Homo sapiens: one gene and its partner. The protein of the gene in region 2 purifies or fractionates together with the protein of the main gene of each other region. This does not show direct contact. Each region holds a gene or a part of one and is shown on either strand. Other genes may lie near its edges.

What was found. The genes of interacting proteins can lie anywhere in the genome.
Region 1: the proteins of CCNB2 (region 2) and CDK7 fractionate together in Homo sapiens (co-fractionation; one large-scale study listed by BioGRID). This does not show direct contact.

What each region holds. Positions count from the first base shown.
Region 1 is NC_000005.10:69,237,886-69,241,385, reverse strand, and holds part of CDK7 (cyclin-dependent kinase 7), read right to left. Parts: intron 1-3,500. UniProt on the Homo sapiens protein: Serine/threonine kinase involved in cell cycle control and in RNA polymerase II-mediated RNA transcription. Cyclin-dependent kinases (CDKs) are activated by the binding to a cyclin and mediate the progression through the cell cycle.
Region 2 is NC_000015.10:59,117,833-59,122,994, reverse strand, and holds part of CCNB2 (G2/mitotic-specific cyclin-B2), read right to left. Parts: intron 1-5,162. UniProt on the Homo sapiens protein: Essential for the control of the cell cycle at the G2/M (mitosis) transition.

The DNA of each region.
Region 1 (3,500 bases), on a different chromosome or scaffold from region 2:
TTGCGCCACTGCACTCCAGCCTGGGTGACAGAGCAAGACTCCGTCTCAAAAAAAAAAAAAAAAAAAAAAAAGAAAAAACCTACAATGAGAGAGCATCTCACCTAAGTTTAAATGGCTTTTATCCAAAAGATAAGGATGAATCCTGGTGAGGGATGTGGAGAAAAGGGAACCCTAGGTACATTGTTGGTGGGAATGTAAATTAGTACAACCACTATGGAGGACAGTTTGGAGGTTCCTCAAAAAACTAAAAATAGAACTATCATTTGATCTAGCAATTCCATTGCTATGTATATATGCCAACAGAATCTGTATGTCCAAGAGATATCTGAACTCCCATGTTTATTGCAGCACTATTCAGAATAGCCAAGATTTGGAGGCAATCTATGCGTCTGTCAACAAATGAATGAATAAAGAAAATGTGGTGCATATACACAAAGAGTACCATTCAAAAATAAAAGAGGCCAGGTGCGGTGGCTCACACCTGTAATCCCAGCACTTTGGGAGGCCAAGGCAGGCAGATCACTTGAGGTCAGGAGATAGAGACCATCCTGGTCAACATGGAAACCCCGTCTCTACTAAAAATACAAAAAATTAGCTGGGTGTGGTGGCATGTGTCTGTAATCCCAGCTACTCGGGAGGCTGAGGCAGGAGAACTGCTTGAACCTGGGAGGCGGGGGTTGCAGTGAGCCGAGATCGCGCCATTGCACTCCAGCCTGGCGACAGAGGGAGACTCCGTCTCAAAAAAGGAAGGAGCTAAGAACAGTTGATTTTAAAATTCTTAACATTTTCCCACATAATAAAAAATAGAGTAATTTCATAAAGCCCTCTACTCCATCACCCAGATTCAACAGTGACCAATATTTTGCCACACTTACTTCATTCATCCAACCTCTCCTTTTTGTTGCCTAAAATATTTTAAAACCCCAGACTTCATGTCATTTCACTCCAACGTACTTAAGTAAGCATCTCTAAAATACAGACATTCTTACATAACCATGCCATTTTGACACCTAACAAAATTAACAATAATGCCACAGTAGCATCTAATATCTAGTTCCTATTCAAATTTTCCTGATTCACATTTCCCAACTGTCTCATAGAGTAGCCAAAATGATTTTGAAGAAGAAAAACAAGGTGTATGGAAGTTGACAGATTTTAAGACTTCTTAAAGTCACTGTAATATTTCAACAGCAATGGGAAAAAAAACAAACAAACCCACCACTGGAACAGAATAGTGTGCCCAGAAATTGGACCCAAGTTCCAATACTGGAACTTGGTATTGCAAGGGTATGGGGAATTTGGCATTACAACTCATTGGGAAAAGGACAGACTATTAATAGTACTGGGACAACTGAAGAAAAAATACTCAATCTTAGCCAGGCACAGTGTCTCATGCCTGTAATCCAAGCACTTTGGGAGACTGAGGCAGGAGGATGGCTTGAGGCCAGGAGTTCAAGACCAGCCTGGCCAATATAGAAAGACCCTGTCTCTATTGAAAAAAAAAAAAAATACTGGATCCTCATATCATACAACAAAGGAAAAACTTGTTGATGGAATAAAGATCTAAGTATTAAAATCAATATTTTAAAAATTTTACAAGTACAGAATTCTTTGTAATCCAGAAACAGGAAAGCACATAAAAAGGAAGCCTTTAAAGATTTCAAAAAAATTAACAAATTCAATCATATTAAAATTTAACTTTCAGTACCTCAAAGATACCATAAATAAACTAAAAGCCTTGCCAAAGACTGGGAAATGATATATGCAATGTGTATTTCTGACAAAGGATCAATATCCAGAATATAAAAGAATTCTGGCTGGTTGCTGTGGTTCACACCTGTAATCCCAGCTCTTTGGGAGGCCGATGCTGGAGGATTGCTTAAGGCCAGGAGTTTGATACCAGACTGGACAACAAAGTGAAACCTTGTCTCTATTAAAAAAAACAAAAAGTATGAATAAGTCCAATAAATCAATAGGACAAAAAAAGTACGTAATCCAACAGAAAACAGGAGAAAATCTAAGAAGCCAGTAAGTGTAAGAAAAGATGATGAACTTTACCAGTAATCAGAGAAATGTTAATTGAAACAATAAGTACATACCATTTTCAATCTACGTAATTGACAAACGTTTTAAAGTCTGACAATGCAAATGATGTTGAGAATGTGGTGGGACAGTAAACTGGTCCAATCATTCTGGAGAGCAATTTGACCATATCTGGTAAAGCTGATGGTTGTGATACTCTGAAGCATCAATTCATAATTTGTTTCAATTATAGATACATTCTCTAGAGAAACTCAAACCTGCATACAAGATGACTCACAGATGACTATCCAGAGAAGGAATGTATTAAAGGAAAACATTAAAAAGCAGCCTAAATGTTTATCAACGAGAGTTTGGATAGAAAATTTCAGTGTAGTCATATAATGGAATCTAATAATCAACGAGCATGAATCAACTGGATCTACATGTATCATACGATATAGAGGATTTCGGAAATAATGTTGACTCAGAATAACAAGTTGCAGGCTGGGTGTGGTGGCTCAAGCCTGTAATCTCAGCACTTTGGGAGGCCGAGGTGGGCAGATCAGTTGAGGTCAGCAGTTGAGAGGCTGCGGCAGGAGAACTGCTTGAGCCTGGGGAGGTGGAGGTTGCAGTGAGCCGAGATCACGCCACTGCACTCCAGCCTGTGCGACAGAGTGGGACCTTGTCTCAAAAAAAAAAATAAAATAAAAAAAAAAGAATAACAAGTTGCAGAAGAATATGCCAAATATACATATATAGCTTAAAGTATGCAATACTGGCTGAGTACAGGGGCTCACACCTGTAATCTCAGCACTTTGGGAGGCTAAGGTGGAAGGTTCACTTGAGCCCAGGAGTTGAAGACCAGTCTAGTCAACAGAGTGAGACCCTGTCTCTACAAGAAGAACAACAAATTTAGTGGGGCACGGTGGCATGCACCTGTACTCCTAGCTGGTTGGGAGGCTGAAGCAGATGGAATGCTTGAGACCAGGAGGTCAAGGCTTCAGTGAGCTATGATTGTACCACTACACTCCAGCCAGGGAAACACACAGCAAGTTGCTGTCTCAAAAAAAAAAAAAAAGGAAAAAAAAAGTATGCAATACTATATATTGTTTTGAGATACACAGATTTAAGACACACACTGAAAAATGAGATATAACCCAAAAGGCCATCAATAGGTGATTGGTTAAATAAATTGGGAAACAAATTCCACATAATCTTTTTAAAAGGATGAGATACATCAGTATTTCTAAAGTCCAAGACTCAACAGGTGAATGAGTACAGAGTAACTTATTTATTGATTCCTTCCCTTTTTATAAAATTAAACACATCCTAGCAAATGAACGGGAGTAGAAATTATGAGTGTTGGAATAAGGTCTACAACACCAAATCCTCAATGTTCATAGTAGAAAGTATAGACAACGTCTAAAACTGGGGGAGAAAAAACACCTCAAGAAATAGGCCAGGCATAGTGACTCACA
Region 2 (5,162 bases):
CTCTTGTTGAACCCTGTGTAGTTAAGCACCAAACAGCAGAGAGAACTTAGACACTACCACACCAAGCCTTGTGACCTAGCCTCCCAAAGAGTAAAATTCAAGTAAAAGAACAGCTGTCAATTGATAATAAGATGTATCATGTAAGAAGATATATAAATTGGCGGGGCACAGTGGCTCACGCCTATAATCCCAGCACTTTCGGAGGCCAAGGCAAGAAGATCGCTTGAGCTTAAGAGTTTCAGACCAGCTTGGGTAACATTGGGAGACCCTATCTCTATGAAAAATGAAAAATTAGCCAAGCTTGGTGGTGTACACCTATAGTCCCAGTTACTTGAGGAGCTGAGGAGGAAGGATTGCTTGAGCCCAGAAGTTTGAGGTAATGAGCGATATTAACGCCATTGCACTCCAGCCTGGGCAACACAGTGAGACCCTGTCTCAAAAAAAAAAGAAAAAAAAAGAAAAAAAAAAAAGGCCAGGCGCAGTGGCTCACGCCTGTAATCCCAACACTTTGGGAGGCCGAGGTGGGCGGATCACCTGAGGTCAGGAGTTCGAGACCAGCCTGACCAACATGGTGAAACCCCATCTCTACTAAAAATACATAAATTCCCCGGGCATGGTGGTGTGCGCCTGAGGCAGGAGAATCGCTGGAACCCGGGAGGCAGAGGCTGCAGTGAGCTGAGATCGCACCACTGCACTCCAGTCTGGGTGACAGAGAAAGACTCTGTCTCAAAAAAAAAAAAAAAAAAAAAAAAAGATATGTCAACTGACTTTATTTAAGAGTTCTGTGACAAAAATTCTAAAAGCGAAAGTACGTTTTTTTCATATGCATGGTATAATTGGCAAAATAAACCACAATTTAATCTCTTTTTTTCTTTGAAGACCGGGTCTCAACTCTGTTGCCCAGGCTGGAGTGCAGTGGCACTATCAAAGCTCACTGCAGCCGTGACATCCTGGGCTCAAGTGATCCTCCCACCTCAACCTCCCTAGTAGCTGAAACTATAGGTGTATGCCACCATGCCTGGGTAATTTCTCCTTTTTTTTTTTTTTTTTTTTTTTTTTTTTTGAGACAGAGTCTCATTCTGTCGCCCAGGCTGGAGTGCAGTGGTGCAATGTCTGCTCACTGCAACGTCTACCTTCCGGGTTTAGGCAATTCTCGTGTCTCAGCCTCCTGGGTAGCTGAGACTACAGGCATGTGCCACCACGCCCAGCTAATTTTTGTATTTTTAATAGAGACAGAGTTTTACCATGTTGGCTAGGCTGGTCTCAAACTCCTGGCCTCAAGTGATCCACCCGCCTCAGCCTCCCAAAGTGCTGGGACTACAGGCATGAGCCACTGCGCCCAGCCAGTTTCTCTGTTTTTTTGTGGAGGCGAGGTTTCGCCATGTTGCCCAGCTGGTCTCAAACTGCTGGGCTCAAGCAATCTGTCTGCCTCAGCCTCCAAAACTGCTGAAACTACAGGTGTGAGCCACTGTGCCCAGTCTACACAATTTAATCCTAAAATACTTTGAAGGGAAGAAAGAGGAAACGAGTAAAAACTGAAATAATGCACAATTTCTAGCCTTTTGAAATAAATTCTCAGAAAACTGGGAGAGCGAAGCACATTTAAGAGTAAGGTGACTAAAAATGAGCCATTGGTACCATGTACCAGTGACATTTTTGCCTCAAATGTTTTATTTATTTCAAAAAATTCCAAATCTACAGAAAAACTGAAAGAATGATCCTCTATATATCCTTCATGTAGACTGATCAATCATGAACATGTGCCACGTTTCCCTCCTCTCCCTCTCTGTGTATACTCACACACAATTTTTGCTATGCCATTTGAAAGCGATTTGCAGATATCACAGCACATCCCTGCTAAATGTTTCAGAAGCATATTCTAAAAAGTACGTTTTCGTACCTATCCATAACACCATTCTCACATAAGAAACACTGTCACCAGTGACTTTTTTTTTTTAAGCATCGAGGCAGTTCCTTTTAAAATGTCTCACATTCTGGATTTGCATATTTCCTCAAGATTTAATTCATGTCAAACATTTTGGGCATGAATAGGTGATAATGTATACATCTTACTGCACAACACGGCATGGCAACTCAGGTCGTCTGCCAGTGGTAATGCTGAGCTTAATCACTGGGTGAAGGTGGAAACCACCAGACCACTTCATCATAGATGTGCAGTTTTGTTACAGAATTAATAAGTATCTATGGGATGATAAATTGAGACCACGTGAATCTTGTTTCCCAAAATTATTCCATCTAATGATTTTTGCATTCATTGATGCACCTTGCTTGAATAAATTATTACATTACAGGTTGAAAATTAGTGGTTTCTAACTCTATCATTCTACTTTAATTAGCTGGTATTCTGATTTTTAAAAATGAACCCCTCTTTTATTTTTTATGTCATTATGGTCCCAGGAATCCTTTTTTTTATACACTATAATCTATTACTGTCATTATTCTTTTTAATGCTCTAATTCAGTCAGCCAGAGTCCTTTCAAGCCAGTTCCTATCTCCCTCCTTCCCTTCCTTCCTATTTTATTGTGGTGCAATCATAGGTCAATGCAGCCTCCAACTCCTGGGCTCAAGGGATCCTGCCTCAGCCTCCTGAGTATCTGGGACTATAGGCACATGCTACCATGACCAGCTCTCCTATGTCCTTTTGATGTGACCTCATTGATCTTTGAGAATTTGTGTGCTATCTGGCACAAATTGTTCTAGGCTCACCTTGTACTTCCCCTGCCATAGCCCTGAAATCAGCAATTTCACTAAACAGCCCTAGTTGCCAGTAGATAATGGTATTTAGTATCCAAGATGTGGGCACTAAATATGCTCACTACTACTGAGTTGTCACTGTTTCTGAGACCCTTTATTATGAATTTGCTGTTATTTCCAAAACATAATAGGGGTTTTCCTTTGTTTTTGTTTTGCTATTTCCTACGTGAGGACTAACCTTTTGTTTTTAATTGTTAATATTTTCTCTCTTAGGCCAGGCACAGTGGCTCACGTCTGTAATCCCAGCACTTTGGGAGGCCAAGGCGAGAAGATCACTTGAGCCTAGGAGTTCGAGACCAGCCTGGGCAACACAGGGAGAGCTAATCTCTACAAAAAAACTTTAAAATTAGCCAGGCATGATGGCGTGTGGCTGGGTCCCAGTTACGTGGGAGGCTGAAGTGGGAGGATCACTTGAGCCCAGGCAATTGAGGCTGCAGTGAGCTGTGACAGCAGCACTGCACTCCAGCCTGGATGACAAAGCAAGACCCTGTATAAGAAAAAATTAATGAATTAATAATTTAAAACTCTTCCTATATTGAAAATTTTAGTCCTTAATAACATGAATAAATTTGTTTTATCCTACAATACACATAAACTAGTTCCAAAATTATAATAACAGATTACTATTAACAATGAACCTACTAAGTAAACTTGATGTTACCACTTTAGTCCTTTATTTTGTCATACTTTAAATCCCACTAAGGATGCACAGTCAGAATGCTGTGTTCAGGTTACAGATTTGTTTTTTTTTTTTTTTTTGGAGACAGGGTTTTGCTCTGTTGCCCAGGTTGGAGTGCACTGGCAGGATCATAGCTACTTCAGCCTTGAACTCCTGGGCTCAAGCAATCCTCCTGCCTCAGCCTCCTGAGTAACTAGGACTACAGGTGTGTGCCACCATACCCAGCTAATTTTTTAATTTTTTATAGAGATGGGGGTCTTGCTACGCTACCCAGGCTGGGCTCAAGCAACAAGTACTTAAATTAATTCTTTCCTCTGTGTTCTGTTACCAATTTCACATGTAGTTACATTGTTTATTTCCACTTAATTACAATTTAAAGTTTGCATAAAATATTTACATTGTTCAAAAGTCAAAAAAGTTACACTGTATTATAAAGTCAATAAAAGGTTACAATCAGAAGTCCTCTCATCCTCAACCTCCACCCTATTCCCAAAGAACCCCATAGTTTCCACTTTCATTCTTTCTGGTTTATTCCTCCCGTACCAAAAAATTAACAAATATATAAATATATATACATACACACACTTTCTTGCATAAAATGTAAACTACAATATACATTGTTTAGGTGAACAGCTCCACCATGCTGCCCTGGTGACCTTGCCTATATCCATATAGGCCACACAGGCCAAGGCCTGAACCACAGCTGATCTGTCCTGGCAAAATGCTTTGTGATCCTCCTGAAAAAGGAGGAGATGGCAGGTGTGGGCAGAGCTGCCGCCCAGCCATCTCCCACTCACCTCCCTATCTCCCCTGGGAGGCTGTCACGAGACAACTTCTTCTTTTTTATATTTTTTTTGGAGACAGAGTCTCGCCCTGTCCGCCAGGCTGGAGTGCAGTAGCACGATCTTGGCTCAAAGCAACTTTTGTCTTCCGGGTTCAAGTGATTCTTATGCCTAGGCCTCCAGAGTAGCCTGGATTACAGGCAGCTGCCACCATGCCTGGCTAATTTTTGTATTTTTAGTAGAGACGGGGGTTTTGCCATGTTGGCCAGGCTGGTCTCAAACTCCTGACCTCAGGTGATCTGTCCACCTTGGCTTCCCAAAGTGCTGGGATTACTGGCATGGCACCCGGCCAAGACAGCTTCGTATCCCCTAGGTTCTGATGAGGTTTTCTATTGTACTGCTCTCAGGGTATAACTGCAGACTAGAAGACTGTTTAGCGGTGGTCTAGAACTGGCTTCTCCACAACAGTGTACCTGTGACTTGCATTGCAGCCATCCAGCTCCATTTGTTTCCACATTATCCTTTTTGCCATGTGAAACAAAGACCCGAGGAGCTGCCATCCTTGGCTACTCTTCTAAATCTACAAGTGGCTCATTCTATTCTTACTGGCTAAATCAGTCAGGCCTTGGCCTTCCTTTGTCTTGTGTGCTTGACAACTTGCTTGTTTCACTTAACGTAATATCTAAGAAATCATACATGTCAGTTCTTAGTGGCCTTCCTCATTCTGTACAACTCTATACTGCACACATGCACCTTAGTATGTATAGTCAACTCACTTCTATGTGAACTGTTCCAAGCAGCTTGCTTGCTTTCTTTCCCAAGAGACAAGGGTCTCTCTGTGTTCCCCAGGATAGACTTGAACTCCTGGGCCTGGGCTCAAATGATCCTCCTCCCTCAGCCTCCCAAGTAGCTAGAACTACAAGCAC